Linked DNA regions of Homo sapiens: region 1 is linked to region 2. A link means that fine-mapping ties the variant in region 2 to the expression of a gene that starts in the linked region. Tissue or cell type: cerebellum. Region 2 holds a variant in brackets; the other region holds the start of a gene. All regions are shown on one strand. Distances are from middle to middle. Region 1 holds the start of PRKCB (protein kinase C beta). Region 2 overlaps PRKCB (protein kinase C beta).

Region 1 (15,547 bases), 21 kb after region 2:
TGAAAATTATAACATATTGATCTACTTACATATATGTGTGTGTATACACGTGTGTGTGTGTGCATGTGTGATGGAAACAAAGAGACAGAGACAGAAGGATAAGCAGAGACAGAGAGAAGAGAGACCCCAACAGTACAAATGTGTATAAAATTATTTTCAAACCTTCAGTTAATCTTTTGACCAATTGCCTTCTTCTGTATCTTCTATTTTTTTTTTTTTTTTTTTTTTTTTTTGGCCTAGATACACTATAAACATGCTGCATCTGGTTGTGGGCAGTATCTCTGGAGTATCATTAGTGCTTGGAAATAATATATTTTTTAAAAATTATATCCTAAGAATCTATATATCATATCAGCTAGATTTTCAAAGGTCATATTTTCCATATTTACTTAGAAAGGCATTCTGTTGCCCAGTGACAAAGCTTCAGACTCCTCCTGAGTGCTCTACAGTGAAAAATGAATTCGTTGTTGCCTCTCCAACAAATCAGCCCTCCTTTTTAAGACTCAATGTTAACCCACTCAAAGATTCTTATTTCGATTGGGACATTGAGCCTGAAATCCCCCGTCAGGTGGTAAAAAAAAGAAAAAAGCCAAATCATCAAACACGAAGTCAAAAAGCCTCTGCCTTTTATTCACAGAGAAGCCCGCAGGACACATTTAGAATAAGCTAAAAGGTGAGTGGAGTTTGGCTCACAGGTCTCTGGGGTCTGCTTCTGGGAAGAAAGAGAAGTGAAACAATAGAAGTAACCTCTAAACTTGCAGCCTGACTTGGTGATTTTTTGAAAAAATGGACCTCTTTATGATTTTACTAAGAAAATTCAACCTGAAGTGCATGGGGCCATATTATAAGTTTCTAGGGAACACTGCCCAAAATAAAATTAACTTTTGATTCATTTTTTGTTATATAAATACACATATGCTATGCTAATCTACACATGTTAATTACCCACTAAAATAAACTTTATATTTGATAGGGTGAATATTGATAAAAACAAGAATGGTTGGATTCATGTCATGATTTGGGGTTTTTTAAGAATAATTTCAACTACAAGATTTAAAAACCTGTTTTCTAATCTACATGGGAAAAAGAAGAGCTGACTTACTCATTATCATCAATTCTAGCTTTCCATAGAAAATAAAATTAACCTTTTTTGTGATATAAAAAAGTGCAAACTTTTCTAGTCTACATGTGTTAATTACACACTAAAATAAACTTTGATTTGATAGGATTGATATTGATGAAAACAACAATAGTTGGAGTCATGTCAGACTTTGGGGTTTTTTAAGAATAATTTCAATTAGAAGATTTAAAAACATGTTTTCTAATCTACATGGGAAAAGGAAGAGCCAACTTACTCATTATAATCATCAATTCTAGCTTTTCATAGAAAATTTGTACACTGGGGTTTTTCTAGAGAGTCCATGGCAAGTTCAGATCTTTCTCAGAAGAAAAGACAATGCTAACCAGGCATGGGTTTCTGGGCCCAGACACTGAACTGAGCACTCACTGGTGTTACCCAATACCCAGGAAGAAATATACCCAAGAAGAGAAACTATCTAAGTACATGAAAGAGGCCTAGTCATTTAACAAGTTCCAGAATGAACTCCGTCCCACTTTGACACAGTTTCCTACAGCTAATCAAGTAATACTGATGGTCTCACTTAGAGTCATTGATACTTGCTGTGGCTATTTCTCATGCACCACCTCATTATTCTTCACCATAACCCTATGAGTTAGGTGCTATTATCCCCATTTTACAGATGAGGAGACCAAAGTTGCTGCTGGGGGACGACTTGCCCAAGGTCACACAGGGAGTAAGCGGCTCCATCAGAGATACATACCCAATTCTACTGGACTCCAACTCATTGCTAAGAATTCTGAATCTCTATATTTTATTGCCTCTCTATTTCTACCAAAGTCACTTCCTTTACAAAAACAACAAACACTTTGGGAGGCCAAAGCAGAATGAGACTCCTGGCTTGAGGCTGGCAGTTTGAGACCAGGCACAGGCAGCAAAGCAAGATCCACTATCTCTACAAAAAATTTTAAAATTAAAAAATATGTATTTGGCCAGGTTCAGTGGCTCACACCTGTAATCCTAGCACTTTGGGAAGCTAAGGCGGGCAGATCACCTGAGGTCAGGAGTTCGAGACCAGCCTAACCAACGTGGCGAAACCCCACCTCTACTAAAAATATAAAAATTAGCCGGGCATGGTGGCACGTGCCTGTAGTTCCAGCTACTCAAGAGGCTGAGGCACGAGAATCACTTGAACCTGGGAAGTGGAGGTTGCAGTGAGCTAAGATCACGTCACTGCACTCCAGCCTGGATGACAGAGTAAGACTCCGTCTCAAAAAAAAAAAAAAAAAAAAAAAAGGGCCGTGGTGACACACACCTGCAGTCCCAGCTACTCAGGACACTGAGGCAGGAGAATCACTTGAGCCCAGGAGTTTGAGGCTGCAGTGAGCTATGATCATGTCACTGCCCTCCAGCCTGGGCCACACAGTGAGACCCTGTCTCTAAAAACAAAATTTAAAATAAAAGAAGAAGGTTTTTCTCTCTACCAAAAATCTTCTTAGAGAAGACTTTAATTAAAATTAAAGCTCAAATGCAGGTCCTAAGTTCCTGTAAAGAATGCCACAGAAACAGCCAGCACTGTAGCTCATGCCTGTAATCTGAACACTTTGGGAGTCCGAGGCGGGTGGATCACCTGAGGTCAGGAGTTCAAGACCAGCCTGGCCAAAATGATGAAACCCCATCTCTACTAAAAATACAAAAATTAGCCAGGCGTGGTGGCAGGCCCCCGTAATCCCAGCAACCTGGGAGGCTGAGGCAGAAGAATCGCTTGAGCCCCAGGAGATGGAGGTTACCGTGAGTCGAAATGGTGCCACTGCACTGCAGCCTGGGCAACAGAGTGAGACTCTGTCTCAATAAATAAATAAATAAATAAAAGGCAAAGAAAAAAATGCCATAGAGAGAAATCTGCCTTGCTTGTCAAAGGAGTTCCACTTCTACTCTAGAATTTAGGCAATTTTACAATAGGGATCTTCAGCCCCAGTTCCCTGTCATCAAACACATTCTTAAATTACCTCCCAGAGAGTGGTTTTATAAGAAATAGACAGAGTGGAAACAAAAAGGGAGAAATTATGAGGCAGTCAACCTAGAGTTTCGTCCTATCATCATACGAAAGCAAGAAAATCTATTCTTAAGCTCCCCTGAGCACACAGAAATCCATAATTTCCCAAGGTTTATGAGTTTTCCATCCTTCCTCTCCCAACCCATAGCAGTGTCCCCAATTTCCATGACAATGTAATAGAGCCTGAAGGTTACTCTCAATGGTTTCTTTGCCTTGCGATCATCCTACACACCTCCTACCAGAGTGGCAGAGACAACATCCTCTCTCTGCTTGTATTTTTGAAATGGAAACATCCTCTAAATAGTGGCTGCCTGAAATAAACACTACATTTCCCACATGCTCCCTCACAGCAAGGTGTGGGTATGTGATTAAACCCTAGCTAAGAGGATGTAGGTAGAAGGATCTTGAGCAACTTAAACAAGTGACACCGAGCATGTGCTATATGCCCTTCTTTACCCCTTTCTTCCTTCCTGCTAGCTGAAAGAAGGGTGTGAGGACTCCAGCGTCTAGCATCCTTTTTGGACCATGAGATAATTGTCACTCCCCAGGGATAGTGGAGCAGAAAACTCAAAGGAACCTGAGGCCCTGGGCTCTGGATTGCTGACTTAAGTGAGATCATAAAACCTTATGTGTTTTGTATAAACTGTTGATTCCATCGTAAGTGGATTTACTTTCAGAGGAAATATCTGATACCAAGAACAATCAGATACTAAGGAACTCCTCAGTGGTTCCAGAATTAGTCCCAGGCAATGCTGAGTACCAGGGATAAATTTCCCTCTTTCCTATATGTTCCCATTCTAAACATCTCAATTTCAGGGACTGCCAATCTGCCCCTCCCCTCACTCCTCCCTACTGCTGCCCAAATGGAATATGCTGTCAAAGCAGCTACACAGAGTGACCAGAAGTTCATGGCTGAGTTTTGACTCTTACCTGGCAGGCAGTTCCATAGCAAAGCAACCCTGCAGAGCCAGTCTTCTCTCGTGCCAGCTGCCCCACCATTGGGGTAGTCTGGGGACAATCATAAGAGCAGATATTTTCTGAGCATACTCTGTGTCAAGCTCTGGTCCAAGAATCTTGGATATTGCAATGAGTTGGAGCTGCTCAGCCACACTATGGTACTGTTACTGACTCCGTTTTATAGACAAGGAGGCTGAAATACAGAGAGGCTAAGTAATATGCCTGGGAAGTCTCAAAGCTAGGATTCAGACCGACAGGGACTTGCCTGGTAGCCTGTGCAAATGCCCACTTCTCTACGCTGCCTCTTGGTGGGGAGGCAGGGAAGAGAAAAAGAAAGGCAATTTAAAAAATAGACACTCCAGAGGGGCATAGTGGCTCACACCTATAATCCCAACACTTGGGGGCTGAGGTGGGAGGGTTGCTTGAAGCCAGGAGTTCAAGACCAGTCTTGCAACATCACAAGACCCCTTCTCTACAAAAGTTGTTTTAAAATTAGCCAGGCATGGTGGTGCGTACTTGTAGTCCCAATTAATCAGGAGGCTGATGCAGGAGGATCACTTGAGCCCATGAGTTTGAGGCTGCAGTGAGCTCTGATCATACCACTGTACTCCAGCCGGGGCAAAAGAGTGAGACCCTGTCAAAAAAAAAAAAAAGACACTCCTATCTCTAGAGCGCCCATATTTCATTACAAACTTTAATTCTGCCTTTTTCTCTTAACATCAGAAAATTCCTATTATCTTCCAGACTTTGAGTTAAAGGATCTCCTATTTCAAATGTGTCATGCCTTGCACATTCCAAAGTGACTTTCCCATCCATCAATAACAGCAGAGCAGGTGGCATAGAAGATCCGTGGTAAAAATGTTTAAAAATCGCCCCCGATCTCAGCAAGAGACAAAGACTGAAACTGATTCATGGAAGTGAAAGGCAACCTCAAAGAAGAAATTACACATTCCGGTGCCAAGACACCATTGGCATTTTGTTTGAGGGGTCAAAGTTCTAGAAAACAATCCAAATTTGTTTGCACCAGGGCCTAAGTTGTTGCCACTTAAAGAGACTTGAGGAGTCCTCTGGTGTGGTGCAGAGGATCCAAATCTTGGTAAGACAGGCTGGGTAGGTTGGCAGGGCTCACTGAGCCCACCGGGACCCCGATCTCAGAAGAGTATGCAAGAGTCTCAGAGGAGCACAGTGCCATGCTGCCAGCAAGCAAACATTCTGCACCACTGACGATGCCACCTACACTCACTAGGGATCACTTTACTTTTCCCTGGAGGGTGGAGGTGCAGCCACAAAACTGTCAGTCAGTGCTAAATCACGTCAGACTCTTCCACACTCAAATACTTTCTTTTGATTTAAACCCAGCTCACCAGGGTGGTGGTCACTTTGCCCCTAAAGATACAATACCCCAGAAATGTGCCGTTTCTTACCAAACTCAATCTTACCAAGCCCAAGAGTGAAAAATTAAAATTTAAATTAAAAAGAAAACATAACACACAAACTTTCCAGATGAGAGGTTGCAAACTTAAATGCCCACAGGGGCCAGAAATGGGTGAAGTGTTCCCCACTGGGATCAACTGAGACAAAATGGTAAGGCTGTTCCCCATCTACGACGACGGCTCTCAGCTCCAAACGATTGTTTTCAAGCGAAAGTGAGACCATTTCTCAGCAAAGTTAAAGTTGGAAATTAGGATGTGTATGTGAAATCTCCCAGTTCTAAAACGTTCACATCAAATTCACAAGTAAGACACCCTAAGGGCTACACAGAGCTGCGGGTAACTTTTGGTCCTGGAGAGCCAATTTGCAATCTGTCTTTTAGACATGAGCCCCAAAGACGGGGGAGGGGGACACTTTACACGTGATCAACTCACCACCAGCAGGTTTGATACCCCTGGTTAGAGTCCAGGATCTCAAGCCAGATGCAAGAACTCAGGTAACCAGTGCCCTGGAGACCTTTCTGTTTCAACCCAGAAGATAGGGTGATTTAAACCAGGATCTGAGAAACACTCCCTCTGGAAATACTTCTTTCAGAGAGAGAGGAGGCCCAGGCGACAAACACAGTCGCCTTTCTAGGGGATGCACCATCTGCAGAGGAGCGGCAGCCACCTGCAGAGACCTCTGCAAGGCAGGGAGAGGCAGAACCTCCCTGGGTGAGATAAGGAAGGGACATGGGCAGAGAAAGGGGAACTAAGGAGGACAGGTTCTCCCAGAAACGTCCCGGGAAAACACTTTCTCCCCCAGCGGAACTGACCATGCCAGGATTGCTTCAGGAGACCGCTTTGACTCTTCCAGAGCCGGGAAGGCAGGAAGGGTAGGTGAACTTCCTTGGCATGTAAGACTCCCAAGCGCCATCGGCCCCAGTCACACACACACCCCTTGAAAGGACCCTGTTGTGGTGAAGAATTCCTAGCCTGGGAGGTCACTCCGACCAACGTGATTCTTTCACTCTCTGCCTAACTCAGTAACTTCTTCTATAAAGTATTTTTCACCCTCTCTTCCCACAAATAGCATCCCCAAAGCCCCAGAGCCTACCTTGGCACTGGAATCCCTGCTTCCCGAAGCCCCTGCAAAAGCAGAAGGAGGTGTATGTCAGGCAGCCCGGGGGGCCCAGCCTCCAGCTAGTTACCCACAGAGTCACCCGCCTTCCTCCCTGCCTCTGTACCCCAGGTGCAAACTCCCAGCCACAGGCGGGTGCCCAAGAGTCTTCCGCCTTTGTGGGGGTAGGTGGGAGCTCGGCTGTAACCCCCATCTGCCTTCACTCCTGCAGAAGAGAGGAGGCTGCGACCACCAGGTGGCGGGATAGTGGGGAGCGTTTCCGTCGGGGTAGGGGCTGAAGGCAGGCGACAGATGTACCCATAGATGCCCCGAGCACCCTCGGGAAAAGAGAAGAGATAAAGACGCATTCAGAGGGAGGGCGAGAGTGACCCCGCGGCGGTGGTGTCCTCTGGGAGGGGGACTGGGAAGGAGGAAAGGATGCCCCACTACTGGAGGGACTGGGGAAGAAAGGGGCCCGCAGTGATGTGACCGAGGAGTGGAAAGGGGAACCCAGGCCCTCGGGGAGGGGCAATGGGAGATAACACAGGGCGCTGCCCGGAGGCACAGAGGAGTGAGAAAGGATGTCCCATGCCCGCAGGGAGATAGAGAAGGACACCCAGGGCGCCGCCCCCCCCGGAAACAAGGGGTGGGGGGCGAGGGCTCCTCGCGCCCGGAAGCAGGCGGAGAGATAGGGAACCCCGGGTCGGAGAGCACCCGAGGCGCTGCCCTCCAGGGCAGGCACAGACCCCGCGCGCTCCTAGTCAGGTGGAGCAAAGGCTCCCGCGACGCCGCCCCTGGGCGCTCTAGAGGCGCCTGAGAGCAGGAGAGGGCAGGAGGCGCCCCGCGGCGGCCCGTCTGGGACCAGGGTGGGGACAGGGCAACGGCAGGACTGTCCATCCGGGAGTCCCGGGCAGCAGGGTCCGGAGCCGGGAGTCCGGAGACGCGGGGTCCCAGGGTGCGGAGGGCGCGGAGGGCGCAGAGGGCGCGGAGAGGGGGTCCCTGGCGCGGCGCTGCCCTCGGGGGCCCGGGAAGGTGCCCTGCGCGCGCGCGCTCACCAGATGAAGTCGGTGCAGTGGCTGCAGAAGGTGGGCTGCTTGAAGAAGCGGGCGGTGAATTTGTGGTTCTTGACCTCATGCACGTTCTTCTGCCGGAGGGCGCCTTTGCGGGCGAAGCGCACGGTGCTCTCCTCGCCCTCGCTCGGCGGCGGCCCCGCAGCCGGGTCAGCCATCTTGCGCGCGGGGAGCCGGAGCCCGAGAGGTGCCGGCCCCGGGGCCGCGGGACCGCGGGCTGCGGGCCGGGGAGGCGCGGGAGGCGGCGGCCGCTGCTGCACCCGGGGCCGCGGGCGCTTCCCCTGCGCCGGCTCTGGCGGCCGCGGCGCGCGGAGCCGGGGCTGTCACTCGCCCAGCTGCTGCCGCTCGTCCAGCTGCGCTTGGCACCGCTGGCCCCAGCTGCGGGGGAGGGAGGCGGAGCCCCGGGCCAGCCCCGCCCTCCTCATTTGCATCGCGCCCAGGCCCCGCCCAGCGCTGCCAGCTGCTTTACATATCGGCGCCCGGGCTACCGCGGGCCTCGCGGCTAAGCGTGCACAGCCGCAGCTCTGCAGCGCCGGGACCGCAGCCCGGGGTCGTCGGACCCGAGCCTCGCCCCCCACCCCACCCCGTCCTCGGCCCCCGGGGCTGCGTTCAGGAGATGTGCCCAGGGGAGGAGCGAGAGTGGAAAGACCTACGGGGCGAAGGGGAGCGGGTGGAAGGGGTGGGGCGCAGCGAATTCCACCCCGGCCTCTGCGGAGACTGGTACCCATCCACCCCCATCCATCCCATTGGTCATTCTGCACGCGTCTCCTGGAGGGATGGGCTCCCGCTGTCACTCATTCGGAAAGGCTTGTGGCCGCACACACTTACACACACATACACACACACGTTCTGCAGAGGTAGGGGAGGAGCGATCTTTATTTTATATGTCTCTAACTCCACCACAGAGAAGATTCTTGGCTTTGCTTGCCTCCTGCACGTTTGGAAGAGAACTCCCTACCTTCTGTCCATCCCCTCTGCAAAACGACTCCGTTTCCCCAACTGTAACATAGGGCTAATAGTGTGGGGAGGAAGGATTTCAGTAGATCAATATTTTTCCAAATTTCATTCATTTCTGACTCGTCTTCACAAATTCTGGTCGTATTTGTGCACCCTCTGGGGGAAAAAAAGCCTATCTCTTTTGGTCTGAGTTTGAACAGCAAGAGGTATCTACATTATTAAAATATCTCCAGGTGCCGTCATCTGTCCTAAGCATCTTCGACTGAAGTCATCTTTTATTTGTTAAGAGAGGAAATTAATAAATGCTAGAGGGGTGTTAAAGACATTACTATCCAACCAGGACTCTCTCCTTGATGTGATCTGAAGGTAACTGAAAGGGTAATAATTGTCTACAATGTGTAATTCAATGTTATTTAGCGCCCTGTTCATGCACAAGGCCTAAAGATACCCACTGCCACCATGTCCCCCACTCTGGGAACGCAGAGCTTCATTAGGCTGTGAGCTCCTTCACCAGACCTAGGCTCTGTGAGAGCAGGGGGGCTGTTCACCACCATGTCGCCCAGCACCAAGCTCAGTGCCTGACACCTCCCAAGACCCCAGTAAATATTGGTTGATTGAGTGAGGGCATGGATGAACAAGTGAATGAATGAAGACTTAAAGGTCGGCACTTCTTACCCCCACTCACACCCAGTAGGTGTTTAATAATAAATATCAAGTGATTGCTGGGCATCAGGTACTTGTGCTGTCTTATTTAGCCCCCGCAACAACCCTATGTAGATCTGGTAACTTTCATTATGGATAAGGATGGGGAGGTTCAGAGTGATTAAGATACACCCACAGTCATACCGTTGCTGAATGGTGATTGGGCTGGCCTGACTACAAAGCATCCTGGTGACAAAGGGGTGAACCTGAGTAGTGGTGGATGAAGGGGGGCAGGCTGGAGTTGCACGAGCTCAGGTCCCACTATGACAATTTTGCCTGGAAGCTGCTGAGTGGTAAGTCATTATTAGGTAGCATGTCGAGAGCAAGGGCTGCAATAATAGAATGTCCCTCTCCTACATAGTAATTCAAAGGTAAGGAGGAAAAAATAGCATTCACTTTTAAGGTTGACATGTTTGGGAAACTGGATGTGCCTGTCTATTATTAGTCCTTGAAGAGGCCCCACCACCTCCCAGGGAGGCTTGGGAAAACATCCCAGGAGACATTGCTGCTGAAGTAGATTTCCTTTGAACTGATGAGCTGGAAGCTCACAGCCCACATCCTGCCTTTTGAATGAAGTGCCCTGGATGACTTTGGTCTGTAACAACAAACAGTACCTCATGGCGCCGGGGCCTGGGGATGCAAGGGCTGTGGATGGAAAAGAGCCACTTGGTTCCTGAAGGCGTTGCACCAAGTGAGGATGAGAAATGTGGTTCCCATTGGACCCAGATTCCTGTAGGTCAGGGTCTCAAACTGGTGGCTCCAGATGCTCTATTTTTTTTAAGCTAGCCCAGTGGGTTGTTGTTGTTGTTGTTGTTTTTTAAGTTCACGGGTCATAGAATTTTACTTAAATATCCAGATTCTGACTTATCTAGGAAAAAAGATAGAGCTAAATGGAGCCTACATTCCTCCCTCACTCATACATTTGTTCTTTCAATCAACAAATTGCTTATTAAGCACCTACTGTGTGCTGTTCCAGATACTGTTAAACAAACCAGACAAAGGTCCCTGCCCTAGTGGAGCTTATAGTCTAATGGGGAAGGGGGAGTAATAACCTAACCAACTAACGAATCCATACCTGGTGGTGTATAATAGAATGTTTGTAAATAAAAATAAAGCATTATTATAAAGACCACAGGGAAATCCTTTATAATATGGGGACATCTGAGTAAGGCCTGAATAAAGTGAGAGGGTGAGCCAGGGGACTATCGAGAGTTTCCAGACAGAGAAAACAGAAAATGCAAAGAGCCTAGGGGAGTATCAAGCTTGGTATGTTGGAGAAATAGCGAGAAGGCCTCAGTGGTTGGATGAACAGAGAGGAGAGAGGACTTATGAGATGAGGTCAGGGAGGTAGCAGGGCCCCAAAGGGCTTTGCAAATGTGATAAGGAGTTTGGATTTCACTCCAGTGAATGGAAGCCATTGGAGGGTTGGAAGCTGAGGAGTGGCCTGATACAACTTATGGGGTTTTCATTTTAAAAGCTTACCCTAGCTACTATGTGGAAATTAGAGGAGAAAGGGTGGAGGCAGGAAGAGCAGTGAAGAGGTCAACTGAGCAGATCAGGCAAGAGATTAGGGCAACATGGCATAGTGCCAACAGGAGCTGCAGGGCAGCAGCTCCCCGTAGATTGGGCATGGGTCCTCCTTGCCACCAGAGCCCCCCAGGCCCACTCTGCTCATGAAGGAGTGAATGCTGGTCACTTGAAAGATTTCAGAGGCAGTGAGGGGGCAGGTTGCTGTGGCTGAGAATGGAGTCCAAGGTCCCTTTGCTCCAGACCTGTGGCTGCCATAAAAAATTATAACAGAACAGGGTGGCTAGAAATAACAAAAATTTATTCTCTCATCATTCTGGAGGCCAGAAACCATAAGTCACAGTGTCAGCAGGGCCACATTCCCTCTGGAGGTTTCAGAGGGGAACGCTTCCTTGCCTTTTGTGGCTTCTGGAGGCTGTCAGCATTCCCTGGCTTCCCTGGCTTGTGGTCACATCGCTCCCATCCTCCTCTGTCTTTATATCACCCTCTCCTCTGTGTGCCTATCTTCACCCCTTCTGTTTCTCTAATATCCCCTGTATATCTCTTTTTTCTTTTCTTTTTTTTTTTTTTCCAAGATGGAGTTTTGCTCTTGTTGCCCAGGCTGGAGTGAAATGGCATGGTCTCGGCTCACTGCAGTCTCTGCCTCCCGGGTTCAAGTGATTTTCCTGCCTCAGCCTCCCAAGTAGCTGGGATTACAGGCACCCGCCACCATGCCCGGCTAATCTTTGTACTTTTAGTAGAGACAGGGTTTCACCATGTTGGCCAGGCTGGTCTCAAACTCCTGACCTCAGGTGATCTGCCTGCCTTCAGCCTCCCAAAGTGCTAGGATTACAGGCGTGAGCCACTGCACTGGCCCTATACCTTGTATATCTTTTATATGAACACTGGTCCTTGGATTTAGGGCTTCACTGGATAATCCGAGATGATCTCTTCATCTCAAAATCCTTAATATAGTTATGCCTGCAAAGACCCCTTCGCCAAATAAAATGACATTCACAAGTTCCAGGAATTATAACATGGATGTACCTTCTTGGGGGCTACCATTTAAATGACTACAGTGCATAACCCTGGGCAAGTCACTTACTTCCTCCTGTGTCTCATTTTCCTCTTCTCTAAGGTAGGACAAGGATACAGTAGTTTGCCTCTCAACCCCTTTATTCTTTTGTTTTTTGTTTTGTTTTGTTTTGGTTTTGGTTTTTTTTGAGACAGAGTCTTGCTCTGTCACCCAGGCTGGAGTGGAGTGATGCGACCTCGGCTCACTGCAACTTCCGCCTCCCAGGTTCAACCCATTCTCCTGCCTCGGCCTCCCAAGTAGCTGGGATTACAGGCGTGCACCACCGTGCACAGCTAATTTTTGTATTTTTAGTAGAGACAGGGTTTCACCATGTTGGCCAGGCTGGTCTGAAATTTCTGACCTCAGGTGATCCACCCGCCTCAGCCTCCCAAAGTGCTGGGATTACAGGCATGAGCCACCGCGCTCGGCCTCAATCCCTTTGTTCTAAGGCTGCACTCTTCAACACAGTTGTCACAGTACCCACATGTGGCTGCTGAGCATTTGAAATGTGGCAACTCTCAAGATCACTTAGAACTGCTACTAATTGTAACTAAAAACCTATAGTAAGAAACAAGAAAAGGCTAGGTGTGGTGGAGGCTTATGCCTCCACTTTGGGAAGCCAAGGTGGGAAGACTACTTGAGTCTAGGAGTTTGAGACCAGTTGAGGCAATATAGTGAGACCCCATCTCCACAAAAACTTTTTTTTAATTAGCCAGACAGGTAGTCCACACCTGTAGTCCCAGCTACTCAGGAGGCTGAGGCAGGAGGATCATTTGAACCTGAGAGTTGGGGGTTGCAGTGAGCCATGATTGTGCCACCACACTCCAGTTTGGGTGACAGAGTGAGACCTTATCTCAAAAAAGAAAGACAGGAAGAGAGACAGGGGGAGAAAGAAGGAAAGAGATAGAGGGGAAGGAAGGCAGGAAGGCAGGGAGAGAGGAAGGGAGAGAGGGGAGTATGGCCCCTTCAAAGGGAAAAAATAAACCAACAGAAACTGTCCCAGAGAATGATCAGAAGGTGAGCCTACTAGACAATGGCTTTAAAGCAACTATATTGAAGATGCTCAAAGAACTAAAGGAAGACATGGAGAAAGTTAAAAAAATGCATAAACATAACAGAAATGTCAATAAAAAAATAGAAAACCCAAAAAGAAACCAAAAAGAAATTCTAGAGGTGAAAATACAATAAATGAAATTTAAAAATCACTAAATGGTTTCAAAGGCAGATTTAAGCAAGCAGAAAAAAGAATGCACAAATTTAAATATAGGACAATTGAAATTATTGAGTCTGAAGAACGAAAAGAAAAATGATTGAAAAAAGTGAACAAAGCCTGAAACACTTGTGGGACACAATCAAGCAAACCAACAGCGTACCATGGGAATTTCAGAAAAAGAGAAAGAGAAAGGAGAATTATTTGAGAGCTTATTTGAAGAAATAATGGCCAGAAACTCCCCAAGTTTGATAAAAGACATGAATATAAACATCCAAGAAGCTCAGCAAACTTCAAGTAGGAATAACTCAAAAAGACCCACACCAAGACATTATAATCAGACTGTCTGAAGCCAAAGACAAAAAGAGAATCTTTAAAGTGTAAGAGAGAAGTGACTCATCATATACAAGGGATCCTCAATAAGATTATCTGCAGATTCTTATCAGAACTTCAGCAGTTAGAAGGTAGTGGGCTGATGCATTCAAAATGCTAAAAGAAAAAATAATCAACCCAAAATTCTCTAACTGTCAAAACCGTCCTTCAAAAGTGAGAGAAATTAAGACATCCCCACATAAGCAAAAGCTGAGTTTGTCACCACTAGAGCTGCCATGCAAGAAATACTAAACTAAAGGAAGTCCAGCAGGTTGAAATCAAAGTGCACTGGACAGTGTCTTGAAGCAATGTAAAGAAATAAATATTTCAGTAAAAGTAAATACATGGGCAATTATAAAAGCTAATATCATCATAAAATCCACTTACTGTTTTCTCCGTGATTTAAGAGACTAATGCATTATTTAAAATTACTACTTTATGTTTTTGGGTGCACAATGTATGAAGATGTAATTTTATGACATTAATAACTGAAAGGGATGGGGACAGAGGTATTAGAAGCAGAGATTTTGTATGTTATTAAAGTTAAGTTGGTATGAATTCAAATTAGAATATTCTGACTTTAGGATTTTAATGTAATCCCCATGGTAACAACATAGAAAATAATTATAGAATATACACACAAGGGAATGAGAAGGGAATTAAAACATTTCACTGCAAAAAAAAAAAAAAAAATCAGCTAACCACAAAATAAGATAGCAATGCAGGAAAAGAAGAACAAGAAAAGCTATAAGTTATATAAAAAACAAATATCAAAATGAGAAAAGTAAGTCTCTCATTCTCAGTAATTACTTTAAATGTAAATGGATTAAACTCTCAAATCAAAAGACAGAGATTGGCAGAATAGATTTTCAAAAATGCGACCTAACTATATGCTGTCTACAACAAGAGAACTCACCTTAGGCCAGGCATGGTTGCTCACACCTGTAATCTCAGCACTTTGGGAGGCCAGGGCAGGCAGATCACCTGAGATCAGGAGTTCAAGACCAGGCTGGCTAACGTAGTGAAACCTCATTCTACTAAAAACACAAAAAAAAATAGCCAGGCGTGGTGGTGGGCACCTATAATCCCAGCTACTACAGAGGCTGAGGCAGGAGAATCACTTGACCCTGGTAGGTGGACTTTGCAATGAGCCGAGATCAAGCCACTGCACTTCAGCCTGGGTGACACAGCAAGACTCCATCTCAAAAATAAATAAAGAAATAAATAATAAAGAGATCCTACTTTAGATCCAAAGACACAAATAGGTTGAAATTAAAAAATGTGAAAGCAGGGTCTGAAAGAAATATTTGTACCCATGTTGACAGCAGCATTAGTCACAGTAGCTAAAACATGAAAAGATAAGCAAAATGTAGCATATACATACAATGAAATATTATTCAGCCTCAAAAAGAAGAAAATTCTGACACATGCTACAACATGTATGAACCTTGAGAACATGATGCTAAGTGAAAGAAGCAAGTCATAAAAAGACAAATACTGTATGATTGCACTTATACGATATTGTTTTAATGTGCCTCCCCCACCCCCCCAGATTTCATGTGTTGGAAAGTTAATCCCCAGTGTGGTAGTATTAATAGGTGGGGCCCTTAAGTGATGGTTGGATCATGATGTGGTCTGCCCTCATGAGTGAATTAATGGGTTAATAAATTAATGTCTTATAATGGGAGGGGAACTGGTGGCTTTATGTGAAGAGGAAGAGAGATCTGAACAAGTACATTAGTATGGTCAGCCCCCTCACCATATAATACCCTGAGCTACCTCTGCAATCTTCAGAGAGTCCTCACCAACAAGAAGGCTCTCACCAGATGTGGCCCCTCAACCTTAGACTTCTCAGCCTTCATAACTGTAAGAAATAAATTCCTTTTCTTTATATTACCCAGGTTCAGGTATTCTGTTATAAGCAACAGAAAATGGACTAATACATATGAGGTACCTAGAGTAGTCAAAATCATAGGGACAGAAAGTAGAATGGTGGTTGCTGGGGGCTGGGAGCAGGAAGAAATGGAGCATTATT
Region 2 (15,547 bases):
GCTGAGGTGGGAGGATCACCTGAGCCCAGGAGGTCAGGGTTGCAGTGAGGTGTGATTGTGCTACTGTACCTCAGTCTGAGTGACAGAATGAGATCCTGTCCAAAAAACAAACAAACAAACAAAAAACCACACACACACACACACACACACACACACAAACAAAACAGAAAATAAATCTTGATTTCTATTTCTTCCTCGTTCAATCTTGTGAGGTTGTGTGCAAAGGAAATTTACCCATTTCCTCTAGGTTTTCTAACTTGTGTGCATAGAGGTGTTCATAGTCATCCCTGAGGATCTCCTGTGTTTCTGTGGGATCAGTCATAATGTCAGCTTGGTCATTTCTGATTGTGCTTATTTGGATTGTGTCCTTTGCAGCAACATGGATGCAGCTGGAGGCCATTATCCTAAGCAAATTAATGCAGAAACAGAAAACCAAATACCACATGTTCTCACTTCGAAGTGGGAACTAAACATTGGGTACACAGGGGCATAAAGATGGAAACAACCGACACTAGGGACCCCAAGAGGGAGAGGGCATAGGGGAAGGGGGTCAAAAAACTACCTATCAGATGCTAGGTTCACTATGTGAGTGGCGCGACCAATAGAAACCCTAACCTTAGCATCACGCTCCATAACCACGTAACGAAACTGCACATGTACTCCCTTAATCTAAAATAATTTAAAAAAAACAAAAAAAGAAATCTCAGAGGCCCTGGTCGTGAGAAGCACCCAGCCTCCACTCAGGGATGGAGGGATACAGAAGCAAACTCCACCTTCCGTTTCCTGTTTGATCACAGCAACTCCCAATGCAGGTCTCTGCTATAAGAAGTAGATACAGGTTTTTTCTTTTCCATCACTTATCATAATCTAGAACGACCTCTTATTTTGTTTGTTTGTAATCTTGTTTATTATCTGTAGGTTACATGAGGAGCAAGGGCTATCTTGCCTATTGCTGTATCCCCAGTATACAGTAGGAGCTCAATAAATTTTTCTTTTCAAGATGAGTTCTCACTATACTGCCCTGGCTGGTCTCAAGATCCTGGGCTCAAGTGATCCTCCCGTCTCAGCTTCCCAAAAGACTGGGATTGCAGGCGTGAGCCACTGTGCCCGGCAATAAATATCTTTTCTTAATCTCGAAGGTGAGGATACTTCTAGCAATACAGCAATAAGCCTGAAACACAGTACCTGAGGGTGGGAGAGCTCACTGAGCAGAGATGGTGTTTAGGAAAGAAGTAGAAATGCCTCTACTTCGGAAGGGACCATTTCTGTTCCTAAAATAAATAAAATCATATGATTTTCCTAGGACTATTTTTTGTGGCTCTATGGGTTAAGAGTCAGAACCTTCATGTTAGTCGCCCTACAAAGGAACAAGGGAGATCCTTATTACTAAGTTTTGAAGTTTGACCTCAGCTTAGCTAAGATTTTACTCTGTACCCATTACTGACGGGCTGGTACAAAAATAAGAGCAGTAACTTCCTCTTTTATTTAAACAAAGAGAGAGAGAGAGAGAAATAACGTACTGAACTCTGAACTTCCTCTCTTTTAACCACAACTTACTACTGACTTTTACTTTGGTAAAAAGATTACCAAATCAGGCACATTCTTGGTGCTGATGGATAGTTTCTATCCAAAACTCTGCCTGGAACATTGTCTACTAATACCAATTTTAATATAGGAGCCAGTCCAGGAACCCTGATTGGAAGCGGACAAGACTGACTCCAGGCTGCCATAAAACTGCCCAGCTCAGCTTTGGGGCTGCTACAGTTACATTTACAGGATAGACACTTTCCATACGAAAATGAAACTGCATTCAAAATGCAATTCTATTTCGAGGCACAAATCCACAGCTAGATAGGGCAGAGGAGCTGGGACATCGGGTGCAGCAGCCTAAGTTTGGCCCCAAGCTCTGCCACTTAAGAGCTCTGTGACATTGTATTACAGGAAAGGAGTCCTGATCCAGACCCCAAGAAAGGGTTCTTGGATCTTGCACAAGAAAGAATTCAGGGTGAGTCCACAGTGCAAAGCAAAAGCAAGTTTATTAAGAAAGTAAAGTGGTGAAAGAACAGTTACTCCATAGACAGAGTAGGGGGTTCCTAAAAGTAAGAGAAGGAGCACGTCCACCCTAGGTAAAATATTCGTGTGTGTGTGTGTGTGTGTGTGTGTGTGTATGTGTATATATATGTATATATATACACATATATATGTATGTATATATACACATATATACGTATGTATGTATACACATATATACATATATATGCATGTGTATATATATACACATACACATGCATATATATGATTATATGATCATATATGTTATATATTATATAATCATATATATAAATCATATATATATGATTTTAAAAATCATGGAGAGATGTGTTCTGCTACAAGGGTTTGTGATAAAGGATTAATTTTCTTAATTACTCTGTTTTGCAATAATCAATATTATTATCCTTAAAGCAAAATTAGGAATGCCTTTGTTCTCAAGATATCGGGATAGCTGGACACTGCCAAGCCTGGCTCTGTTTAGTAAACATTATCAATCTGTTCCCTTAACTGTAGACATCTAGAGGCTAGGAATACCTTTCTTTCTGGGAATGCAGCCCAGCAAGTCCCGGTCTTATTTTCCTAGCCCTTACTCAAGATGGAGTCACTCTGGCTCAAGTGCCTCTGACAATTGGGGAAATGACTTCACCTCTCTGGGCGTTAGTTTTCCCATGTGTTAGACAGAAAAGAGTCTCGTTTCTGTTATGGGCAAGCAAGCTTCAGCTAGACCCAACCTTTCCATAGGTAACAAGTAAAAACTCTCAACGAAAAAAAAATTTTTTCCTGAAATTACTCGAAAGTGAACAAAAGAAAGCAGATTCTGCAGAGAGGTTGAAACTTGGAAGAAGGGAATGGTCATTTTACAGCTTTTCCCCTGAACGCAAGCTGCTGTCAGCTAAAACTTCAACATGAAGCCTCAAGTCTTTCTGGTGTACAGAACCAGAGGACAGGTTTCAGGTCACTCACGGCTTCTGGAAAGTGAGGAAGGAATTCCATAATAGAGACAGCCAAGAGAGAAGAGCCCCAAATTCTGTGTCTAAACCCCACCCAAATGTCTGGCTGACTCTTGAACCATGCATGCATGGGGCAGTCCCAAAGAAGACTCAAGGATAAAATAAAAAACAGAACTGACATCTGAGCTGGTGTCCCAGAGACAGTCTACTGTCCAACCAAGTCAATGGCCTACTAAAACAAAAACATCAATGCTTTTCAGAGAAATACGAATGAATCCAGAGTCTCCACAGCACAACACTTACAGTGTCCAGGATACAATCCAAAATTACCCGACATACAAAAAACCAGGAAGATAAGACACAATCTCAAGAGAAGCTAATCAACCAGGAAAAAAGGGGGAGGAGCAATGATTCAGAGTAGGTTGAGGCAATAACCTCAAATTGTGTGAGATACAATGCATTCTACTGGAAAGAACAGAAAACCCATCTTAAGACGTTTTAAGCAGTAAGAGAATTATCTAACAAAACAAAATTTCAAGAGATAGAGCTATATCAAGATTAGTGAATTCAGGGGCTCAAGGATATTGTGAAGGAGACAGATCCTCTCCCTCTTTTTACACTGCCATTTACAGCTTGCCAACCTTGTCCCTCATGGTCAAAACATAGCTGCCACAGCTCCAAGCACCACATGCAAATGTGACATGAAATACTTAAACACAAATCCTTTGTCCTATGTCCCCTTCCTTCCTGCTTTGCCCTGTGAGTATGTGATTCTGGGAGCTATCACAGCCTTCCTGGGACCAAGAAGGGAGACACTGATCACATTTTGAGGATGGCAGAGCAAATAACTGAGAGGCGCTTGATGACAGTGTTAAGTCTTTGATTAAACCAACCCTGGAACCACCAGCCTCCTTGTTAGGCTCGCCAGATATTCTGTTTTTAAGAACCAAAGCAGGTCAGGCATGGTGGCTCATGCCTGTAATCCCAGCACTTTAGGAGGCGGAGGTGTGAGGATTGCTTGAGCCCAAATTCAAGACCAGCCTGGGAAACACAGTGAGACCCTGTTTCTATAAAAAATAAAATAATTAGCTAGGAATGGTGGGACATGCCTGTAGTCCCAGCTACCTGGGAGGCTGAAGTGGGAGGTTTGCTTGAGCCTGGGAGGTTGAGGCTGCAGTGAGCTGTGTTTGTGCCACTGCACTCCAGCCTGGGTGACAGAGCAAGACCTTGTCTCAAAAAAAAAAAAAGAACTAATGCATCCTATCTGAAACAACCTCCAGAATTGGAGAGCTAGTAACACTTGCTATAAATAGAAGGTGAGTATGAAGAACACAATGAAAATTTAAATTATTAAATTCTAGCAGGTACATAGCTCTGAGTCTGAGATTGCTTCATTCTTTTAGCTTAAAAGGGAGATTTGCATGCATTAGAAAGATGTTTAGGACATGATAGCACCAAACTAAGACACTCTCCTTAACCCGAAGAATTAAAAGAAAAAAACATTTTTTTCTTTTTTATACTGAGTCTCATTCTGTTGCCTAGGCTAGAGTACAGTAGCGCGATCTTGGCTCACTGCAACCTCTGACTCCGGGTCCAAGCAATTCTCCTGCCTCAGCCTCCCGAGTAGCTGGGAGTACAGGCACACACCACCATGCCCGGTTTTTTTGTTTTGATTTGTTTTGTTTCTTTTTTTTTTTAGTAGAGATGGGGTTTCACCATGTTCACCAGGCTGGTCTGGAATTCCTGACCTCAAGTGATCCACCCACCTTGGCCTCTCAAAGTGCTGGGATTACAGGTGTGAGCCACCACACGCGGCCTACAAGAGAATTTCTTTTAAAACTACGTAGTTCCATGTTGTTGAATACCTTACATCATTAAAAATCTTTGAGTGCCACCAGTAACATACTTCAGATATTTTAAAAATGCACCCCTGTATTAACAACTCCCAAACATTTACCTCTATCCCTGACTTCTCATGACTTCCAGTTGCCTTTGGGCACCTACACCCGGATATGGCACAGGCACCTCATCCTCAACATACCCAACGCATAATTCTCTATCTTCTCCCCCAAGCTTTCTCTTCTTCTTGTATTCTCTGCTGCTATTCATGATATTTCTATGTATCAAGCACCCAAACCCGGACTCCCTCAATAGGTGACAACATTTATAGTACTTTTTTTTGGTACTAAGTGCCAGGGTGCCACTGCATCTTACACAAGCACTAACATATTTGATCCTGACAACTCTTATTAGGTAGGTCCTATTATCATTCACCCCTTTTTCAAAATGAAGAAGCTAAGGATAAGAAATTTGCCTGGGGTCATGAGATTTGAATGCAGGTCTGTCTAATTCCTCTTTTTTTCTGCTTCACAAAGAAAATAGAAACCACCAAGCAAGATTTCTCAACTGGCCTCAAAACTTCATTTATTTCCCACCCATTTTCCCATCACTTCTCATTTTCACCTGTGCTCTCCCCTCCATGGGTCCTTCCCTTCCTTGACAACTCTCTCGCTCTCTCTCTTTCTCTCTCTCTCTTTCTCTCTCTCTCTCTCCTAATGCTGTCAACCTCACCCCCTTGAGAAGTGCCATGCTCCCTTTGGGAACCTGGAGGTCTTTCTCTCCTGCTTTTAAAGTTTCCTGCCTTTTCTCTGCCTCCTCCAAATTTTCTATTCTTCAAGCTAAACATCCCCGGGTACTTCAACTACTTCTTCCTGCCAAGTGTCTTCTCTCTCTTGCTTCTCCCCGCACCTCACTGACATTCTTCCTCTCTCTTTCACTGCTTCCTCTGCCTCAAAACCCAACTGAGAACTCAGGCTCCTCTGTGCAGCCTCCCCAGGACCCTGGGAGGTGAGCTGCTCCTGGCATTTCTCCCCCCTCTCCACCATTACAGCACACATCACACTGAGTTATCAATGTGTGATTTATGAGTCTGGCCTACAAGTTTAGGGGCTGCTTGAGGACAGAAAGCAGCTTCCCCCTGCCCATCACAGGGCGGCTGACTATGCCAGCCAGACCACGCTGTGCTATCACTCCTTTTACACTACTCTCTTCTGAGTGGACTTTGGAAAAGATACAAAGGAGGGATCTCACACTTTCCAAATCAGACCCCACAACTTGATATGCCACCTTCTGTGCCCTGGCCAAAGACTGACCAGGGATACTGGTGGAGTAGCTGAACCTGGACCTTCAAGCCTAGGAGTCAGACCACCTGGGTTTGTTGCCCTCTTCAACTACTTAGCTTAGAGACCAGTGGCAAGTTAATTAATGTCTCCTGGGATTTGTTTGTTTAGAGAGAGGGTCTCACTCTGTCACCCAGACTGGAGTGCAGTGGTGCCATCAAAGCTCACTACAGCCTCAACCCTCACAAGCTCAAGGGATCCTCCCACCTCAGCCTCCTAAGTAGCTGTGAATATAAGCACGAGCCACCACACCTAGCTCATTTTTTTTTATTCTTTGCAGAGATGGGGTTTCACTATGTTTCCCAGGCTGGAAGCTATTTAATATCTCTAAGCCTCAGTCACTTCATGAAGTTAATAATGAGATCAACCTCCTAGGGTGCTGTGGACATTCAATGAGATCATGTGTGTGAAGCATCCAGCTCAGTGCCTCAATAAATTAGTGCAGCTCTTCAGGGAAGTATTATTCCATGAAAGTGCCTGCTGTATGTAACCCTCTTCCTTCCAAGTGACTCAACAGCTTGCATAGTTCTCAGCCTGTCCTCCCAGCCTGGTAACTTAGGCATGAAGAAATCAGCCTACTGTGATCACGTGGCCAATGAAAGTCCTCAAACTAGAAGCCACTTTCTGAATTCCTTATTCAAGGCTATGGCTAAAAAAATCTACACATGTGCAAACTCCCCCACTGGGAAAAAAAAAAAACAGTTTGATGGAAGTATTCCTCCCACTAGAGAATTTCCCCTTCCTGTCAAATGTTGCCAGTTTCATTCATTGCTGTGGCAGGCACACTTTCCTGGCCATGAGAGATGGGCCTTATCACCATCCCGTATACCAGATCCTTCCTGGTTGCCATTCTGCCACACTCTTACGGGGCCTTCCTCACCATGGTGCTCCTCTGTGACCCCCGGAGCCCTTCACCTTGGTGAACAGACAGTCTGACTCGAATGGACCTGAATTCAATCTACGCTCTGCAGTTACTTAAGCAAATGTTTTATCTTCTCTAAGCTTGCTTTCTTATCTACAAAAGGGATAAGAATAGCAGCAAATCTTAGTGGAAGGTAAAGATTCAAAGGGATAAAGTTTGTGAAAATGCCCAGCTCATTGCAGACACTGAAATATTAGCTGCCTTCATCATCATCATCATCATCCTCATCATCAACGTCATTGTCACCATCAATTCTGAAGTTACACAATCCTAAAACCAAGTCTATTTTTGAATCCTAACTGTAACTTTGGAAAAATTTCTCAATTCTTTGTGCTGTTTTCTCAGCATAAAATGGCAACAATAACAGTAGCAGCCACACAGGGCTGTTGTGAGGATTAAATAAGTTAATACATGTAAAGTACTTAGAACAGTGCCAGTCACCGAGTGAGTACTCAATAAATGTCAGCTCAAGTTAATGGCATTTGAAATCTTTGAAGACATCCAGGAAATGGAAAATTCCCTTGGCCTCTCTGTCCAATGAATAGAGATCCTTCTAGGGACTGCAGACGCACGTGCGCACACACCCACACACACACACACACTCTCTCTCTCTCTCTCACATCCTCAAGCAGGGACAAGCCTAGCCCGGATTTCATTTTTTTCTTGGACTTGACTTTTCGTCCCATCTGGAGTGCCCTGGCCC[C/A]CCTATGGCCCTTGGGCCCCAAATCAGAGACGGCCAGAAGGGAAACACAGAGAGGCCAGCTGTCATGTGGGCCCCCACCTATCAGGCACACCAGAGAACATAAACACACACTGAATCCCAGCCCTTGGAAGTCTCGGCTGGAGGCAACCCTCAGCAGAGTCCCACCATGGGGATCTGACCCACCTCCGTGCTGGCATACTGTTCCCACATCTTCTGGCGGCTCTCTGCAGCCCCTAAACACCTCCTCCTCCCTCCCTCTGTGCTGATTCTGCTCATAAAACACTTCTTTCTCAACCCACATTATCCCCCAGGATAAGCAGCTCCTTCTCTCTGCAGGAGAGGGACAGTTCTCCGCCAGCATTCGACACAGCTCTCTGACACTTCACCCGAGTGACAGGTCAGGCCAGGCAGTTCCGCCAAAACCAATCATTCCATTTCTAAAAACCTCTTATACCATACTTAAAATTCTATTTGGAAAAATAACTTTTGTCTGTGATATGTTAAAGCTGAAAGATGATAATAAAAATTATCTTGGGACATGGTGATGGGGTAAGAATAAAACTTCTAATTATAAAGAATTCAAAGCACTACATTTATATCATCTCTAAAGATTAAAAAAAAAGCCTCAACAGTCCATGGGCCAAGTTCATGAGCCCCCAGAGCCTCTTCTCTATATATTTCACAGTGATATTCGAACTACATTGACAGTTACCTGCAGTAAGAGACACATTTTACATTTTGACCCAGTTCACTCATGGCTATATATGTTTATATCAAATAAAAATTGTATGAGGCCAGGAGTAGTGGCTCATGCCTATAATCCCAGTACTTTGGGAAGCCAAGGTAGGAGGACTGTTTGAGCTCAGGAGTTTGAGACCAGCCCGAGCAACATAGGGAGACCCTATCTCTACAAAAAGTTTTAGAAATTAGCCAGGCATGATGGCATGTGCCTCAAGTCCCAGCTACTCATGAGAATGAGGTGGGAGGATCTCTTGGGCCTGGGAGGTTGAGGATACAGTCAGCTATGATTGTACCACTGCACTCCAGCCTGTGCGACAGACAAAGACCCTGTCTCAAAAAAAAAAAAAGTTTCGTGAAACAATATCTACCCTTCCTGAGAGTGATGCACTGTGATATTTTCTGTTCTGCTTTCTTCATGGTATTCTTGACCTATTATATTGACTTCATGAACTTCTAATGAGTGATGACCCACAGTTTAAAAAACATACATAGAAGAATTCAAGAAAACTTTCCAGAGTGGGGCTGCAATCTGATACAGGGGTTAAGGGCAACAGGACATTGAAGTCATGCAGTCTGGGCTTGAAATACAAGTTGGAATCTCCTGTGACTCAGGAGTGTGTAGCATAACAGAAGTAATGTGAGGTATAAAGTATCGTTGGTTGGATATGAATCCCAGCTCTCCTCTCTGGTAGCTGGATGACCCAGGACAAGCTATTCCCATGTCATTCCCTAGGCCTAGTCAGATTAGGACTCTCTGTCCATGATATTCCAGTGCCAGCAAGTACAGTCTATGAATCTGGATAGTAACTAAATCAGTACTGTGAATGAACCAAGGTATAGTTTGAAATGAACCTCTAAGAAAGACATAGAAGCACGCAGTGAACCCCAGAAGGCATTCCCCCAAATGCAGCCCCCTCAAAACCATCTATAGGGACAAGGCACTCATTCCCCCAGCTGCTGGGAAAACCAATTGCTCACAGCTGTGTCCTCCCTGGGACTCCTCCCCTGAAGAAGGGAGCTGCTTTGCCCAAGGTAATGCTGCCTTCCAAAGAGCAGCCCACAATCAATGCCCACTTGATGCATTGGCTTGTCCCAGTTCTGAAGGGCCGTCTCAGCTCCAGCCATGGAATTGGCTTTGGCCTCTATTACAACTATTGCACCACAGTTCAACTACCTCTTCCCTGCTTCCCTCTATCCCTTATAGATGTTGTTCCCAAGAGCTACATCCCCAATAAACCACCTGCATACAAATCTTCATCTTTTAAGACAATTTATCAATGATGCTAGCCAGAGTTGCAGAAGAACTAAATAAAGATGAGGTCTTTAGGACATTTTTACAAGGGCACATTTAAGAACTTATATTTTTTTCTATAACTAACATTTAATAAGCAATCACATGATTTTTGTTTTCATTTTTGTTTTTTGTTTGTTTGTGGTTTTTGTTGTTGTTTGCCTGTCTCATTTAATCCACATAGAACTCTGGGAGGTAGGCTCTGTGCCATTATCTTCATTTCACAGACAAAGAAACTGAAGATTAAAAAGAAAGATGCCTAAGACCCCACATGTGATTGGGGAGGAACTGAGGCCTGAACCCATGCTCTTGACCAGTAAGTCATCAGACCTCATCCGCACTCCATCACAGCTCTGTGATCACACTGACCACACTGTGTTGCAAGAACTCACTCACACGCCTCTCTCTCTCTCTCTCTCCTGCCACCCCCTCCCCCGCCGGCTCTCTTTATTCTCTCCCTCCTCAAGTACAGGGGCTTTGTCTTCCTTTCTCTGAATCTCAAGCTTTTAGGGAGTGCCAAGTGGTAGTAACGGTAGTATTTGATGGCAGTATTCAGTAGTCATGGTGGTAGTATTCAGTGTTGCGTGTGCACTAAGTCCTGGCCGTATCCTTTGCATACAGCATCTCATCTGGCCCTACCATTTCCCTAGGAGGTAGGTAGTATTATTATCAGGTGTAAATGTTGAGCACTCATTTGGGGCCTGCCTTTGATCAAGTTCATTTTCAGAAATGCACACTAGACTGGAGTATGTTTTTAGACAGCCAAGCAATTGCGAGGACCACACTGAAATTAGTGTGGTGGGTTCCAAAAAATATCACAAATTATTTGCAGCTTCTCCCATCAAGAGGAGGCATCTCTATTCTCTTCTCTATTTCCTCCTTTACTTCTGGGGTGGGCTTGTGATTTGCTTTGACCAGGGAATATGGCAGAAGTGATGTTATGCATGTTCTGAGCCTTGGCTTCAAGAAGCCCTGCAGCCCTTGCTCATGCCCAGAGAATGCACCCATCAGCATATGACCATGCTCAGGATAGCCCACTGGAAGATGAAAGACCTGAAGAGAGGCCCCAGTTGTCCTAGACATCCCTGCTGAGGCCCCAGGAAGGTAAATGAGCCCAGCCAAGAACAGCCAATCCCTGCCCAGATCAGACAGACCACCCAGCTGAGCCCAGCCCAAATTACTGACCCACAGAAACTAAAACTAAATAAAACAGTGGCTACTTTAAGCCACTAAGCCTTGAGGTTATGTGCTATCCAGCAATAGATAATTGATTTGTTGGGTGTCCAGTCAAATATCTGGAAGTAGAACCAACAAAGGATTCTTCTATATAACAAGTCAGCTTAGAAGAGAACTAACCCGGCCTCAAAGAGATCTGCTTGGGATGTCCACAGGTGATATGGTTTGGCTGTGTCCCCACCCAAATCTCATCTTGAATTGTAGCTCTCATAATCCCCATGTGTCATGAGAAGGACCTGGCGGAAGGTAATGGAATCATGGGGGTGGGTTTTCTAATGCTGTTCTCGTGATAGTGAATAAGTCTCACGAGATCTGATGGTTTTATAAAGGGCAGTTCCCCTGTGCACGCTCTCTTGCCTGCTGCCATGTAAGAAGTGCCTTGACCTTCCTTTGCCTTCTGCCATGATTGTGAGGCCTCCCCAGCCATGCTGAATTGTGAGTCAATTAAACCTCTTTCCTTTATAAATTACCCAGTCTCAGTTATGCCTTTATTAGCAGCATGAGAATGGATTAATACAACAGGCAACCAGAGAGGCAAGAATTCTGACTGATTGAAAAACTAGAAAGTCTGACAAGAGCCAGATTGTTCTAATAACTAAAAACAAGAAAAGTGCTTCTTTATTTCACTTTTAGGAACACAAATAGAACTCACTCTTTCCCTGCTATGTTTGATAAGATAAAGACGTCCAGAGTTTTGCATCTTAGTTTTACCAGTCAAGTGAGAGATAAAACTAGATACATCACCGCAAAGAAAGACAAAGGAAATTATGGCTTTGGAGACTGGAGTGAGATTTACTGAGTTCATCAAAACCTGTTTTCTTTTCCTCCTGGACATAGAGCTAGTCGACATGTCCCAGGACCCCCTTCCGTTGGTTGCCTCTTTGCCTGGGTTCTGGCAAATAGAATGTGAGCAGAAGTGATGTGACTTCCTTCCCCAGCTGAAGTTGTTGTGAAATGAGTGTGCTTTCTCAATTTCCCTTTCCCCTTCCACTGGCCCAATGGGGAGGACCCTGGGGTCCTGTGTGACTCTGTGGAAGATGTCCTGACCAGGACCACCTGCACTGGTTAGTGACATGAGTAAGAAATAAACTCCCTTCTGTCAAGCCACAGAGACTTCAAGGTTTGTCTGTTACAGCAGCTTTAATAGATTCTTACTAATACAGAATTTTTGAAATGTTAAGCCCTAAAAATAGTTTGTGAGCTCAAGTTTTCCTAGTATTTACAGAGCTAAATTATTGTGTGGAAAAACTGTCAGAATGCCCTGGCTTCCTTGTTGAACAGTCTGGAACCGATGGGCAACATTGAAACAGGAAGCAGATGTTCCCCAAAGAAGGCAAACGGCACCATTCCCCAATGGGTGATTCCAGAAGGTGCCTGTCTCCCATACGGATTTCACTTCCTCTATGCAAAACTAAAAAAGTCCCAGCTAACATTTCTCAGGCTCAGCCTCAGTAACTTAAAGCTCTGCACTTTTTAAATTTTTTAACAGAAAAATGGGCATAAGTCAATGGAGTTGCATAACAGAAAAGTGGGCATAAGTTCAGGAACAGATGAAAGTAATCATAGGTGATAGAGGTTAGGATAGTGATTACTCCTGAAGGATACGGTTGATAGGGATTGTGAGATGATGCTTCTAGGGTACCAGCATGTTCTGTTTCTTGATCTGGATGTCAATCAATTCTTCTTAAACTCTTCCAAAAAATTAAGGGAGTATTTCTAAACTCATTATCCAAGACTATCATACCAAAGCCAAACAAAAACACAAGAGAAGAAAACTATAAACCAATATCCCTGATGAACATAGATGGAAAAATCCTCAACAAAATATTAGCAAACCAAATTGAAGAACACATTAAAAGAATTTTATTCACCATGATCAAGTGGGATTTCTCCCTGGGATGCAAGGATGGTTCAACACATAGAAATCAATAAATGTGATACCCATGTTAACAAAATAAAGGATAAAAATCATATGATCATCTCAATAGATGCAGGAAAAAAAAGCACTTGAAAAAAATTAACATTCTTTCATGAAAAAAGTACTCAGCAATAAGGTATAAAGGAAATGCACTCAACACAATAAACACTATGGGCTCTATTATGACAAACCCGTAGCTAACATCCTTCTCAGCACTGAAAAGTTGAAAGCCTTTCCTCTAAGATCAGGACGCCCACTCTCACCCTTTCTTTTCAATAGAGTACTGGAAGTCCCAGCCAGAGTAATTAGGAAAGAGAAAGAAATAAAAGGCATCCTAATAGGAAGGGAAGAAGTGAACTTGTCTCTATTTGTTGACAAGGTGATTTTATATACAGAAAACCCTAAAGAATCCACTAAAAAAGCTGTTAGAACTGATCAACAAATTCAATAAAACTGCAGGATGCAAAACCAACATACAATCAGTAGTGTTTCTATATTAGATTATCTAATTATTCTAATTTTATATACTAGCTTATCTAATAACAAACTACCAGACCAGAAAATTAAGAAAACAAACTAATTTACAATAGCAGCAAAAAAAAAATTACTTAGGTGTAAATGTATCCAAGGAAGCAAACTATCTGTATACTGAAAACTATACAACACTGATGAAAGAAACTGAGGAAAACACAAATAAATGAAAAGATATTCCGTGTTCATGGACTAGACAAATTAATATTGTGAAAATGTCCATACTAGCCAAAGCAATCTACAGATTCAGTGCAATTCTTATCAAAATTCCAATGTCATTTTTCACAGAAATAGAAAAAACAATCCCTAAGTTCATATGGGACCACAAAAGACCCCAAATAGCCAAGACAACATTGAGCAAAAAGAACAAAGCTGGAGGAATCACACGACTTAATTTCAAAATACATTATAAAGCAATTGTAATCAAAACAGCACGGTACTAGCATAAAAACAGATGCATCAACCAATGGAACAGGATAGAAAGCCCAGATATAAACCTGCACATTTATAGCCAACTGATTTTTGATAAAGGTGCCAAAAACACACAATGAGGGAAAGGACAGTCTCTTCAGTAAATGGTGTTGGGAAAACTGGATATCCACATGTAGAAGAATGCAATTAGACCTTTATCTTACAAACCACATACACAATCAACTCAAAATTGATTAAAGACTTAAAACCTGAAACTATAAAACTGCTAGAGAAAAACATAAGGGAAAAACTCCACAACATTGGTTTGGGCAATGATTAAGCAAAAGCAAAAGGAGACAAATGGGAGGGCATCAAACTGAAAGCTTCCTCACAGCAAAGGAAACAATTAACAAAGTGAAGAGACAGCCCACAGAATGGGAAAAATATTTGCAAATGCTGTATCTGATAAGAAGTTAATATCCAAAATATACAAAGAACTCAAACAACTCAATAGCAAGTAAACAAATAACCTGATTTAAAAATGGGATCTGAACAGAAATTACTCAAAAGAAGACACACAAATGGCCAATAGGTACTTGAAAAAATGTTCAGCACACTAAGCACTAGGGAAATGCAAATTAAAACCACAGTGAGATATCACCTCACACCTGTTAGAATGGCTTTTATCAAAAAGATAAAAAATAACATGTTGGAGAAGATGTAGAGAAAAGGGGACCCATACACTGTTGGTGGGAATGTAAGTTAGTATAGCCTTATGAAAAACAGTACTAAAAGTTTCTCAAAAAAACAAAAAAGTGAACTACCACCGAGCATGGTGGCTGACACCTGTAATTCCAGCACTTTGGAAGGCCAAGGCAGGTGGATCACCTGAGGTCAGGAGTTTGAGACCAGCCTCACCAACACAGTGAAACCCCGTCTCTAGCAAAAATACAAAATTAGCCAGGCGTGGTGGTGCATGCCCGTAATCCCAGCTGCTTGGGAGGCCGAGGCAGGAGAATGTCTTGAACCTGAGAGGTGGAGGTTGCAGTGAGCTGAGATCGCACCATTGTACTCCAGCCTGGGCAACAAGAGCAAAACTCAGTCTCAAATTAAAAAAAATTAAATTAAATTTTTTTTAAGTAATCCCACTTCTGGGCATATATTTAAAGCAACTGAAATCAATATGTCAAAGAATATGTGCATTCCCATGTTTGTTGCAGTACTACTTACAATAGCAAAGATAGGGAATCAACCTAAGTGTTCAACAGAGGATGAATGAATAAAGAAAGTATGGTGTATACACACAATAGAATCCTACCCAGACTTTAAAAAAAAGAGAGAAATTATATCATTTGTGACAATATACATGAATCTGGAGGACATTATGCTAAGTAAAATAAGCCAGAAACACAGAGACAAATACAGCATGATCTCACGTATATGTGGAATCTAATAAAGTCGTAGTCATAGAAGTAGAGAGTAGGAGGATGGTTACCAGAATCTGGGATGAGGGAAGGAGTTGTTGATCAAAGGATACAAAGTTTCAGATAGACAAGGGGAATAGGTTTGGAGATCTATTGCACAGCAGGGTAACATAGTCAATAATAAGTGTA

The links. PIP is the estimated chance that this variant, and not a neighbour inherited with it, causes the effect.
Region 1: it holds the start of PRKCB, and the variant in region 2 is fine-mapped to the expression of PRKCB in cerebellum (GTEx, PIP above 0.99). The same link has a PIP of 0.9 or more in cerebellar hemisphere and lung.

What each region holds. Positions count from the first base shown.
Region 1 is chr16:23,828,477-23,844,023 of GRCh38, reverse strand. PRKCB (protein kinase C beta) reads right to left here and starts at 8,041. Exons shown (of 17, transcript NM_002738.7): 1 at 7,676-8,041; 2 at 6,618-6,649. The coding sequence starts at 7,848. RefSeq lists enhancers at 1,807-1,856, 6,936-7,075, 7,339-7,884, 7,885-8,432 and silencers at 7,386-7,465, 7,796-7,875, 7,906-8,545.
Region 2 is chr16:23,849,876-23,865,422 of GRCh38, reverse strand. All of the region lies in intron 2 of PRKCB (protein kinase C beta), which reads right to left. Among named protein-coding and RNA genes, the nearest start is that of PRKCB, 22 kb to the right of the region's middle. RefSeq lists an enhancer at 11,814-11,903. The variant C/A (reference allele first, on the strand shown) is at 7,807.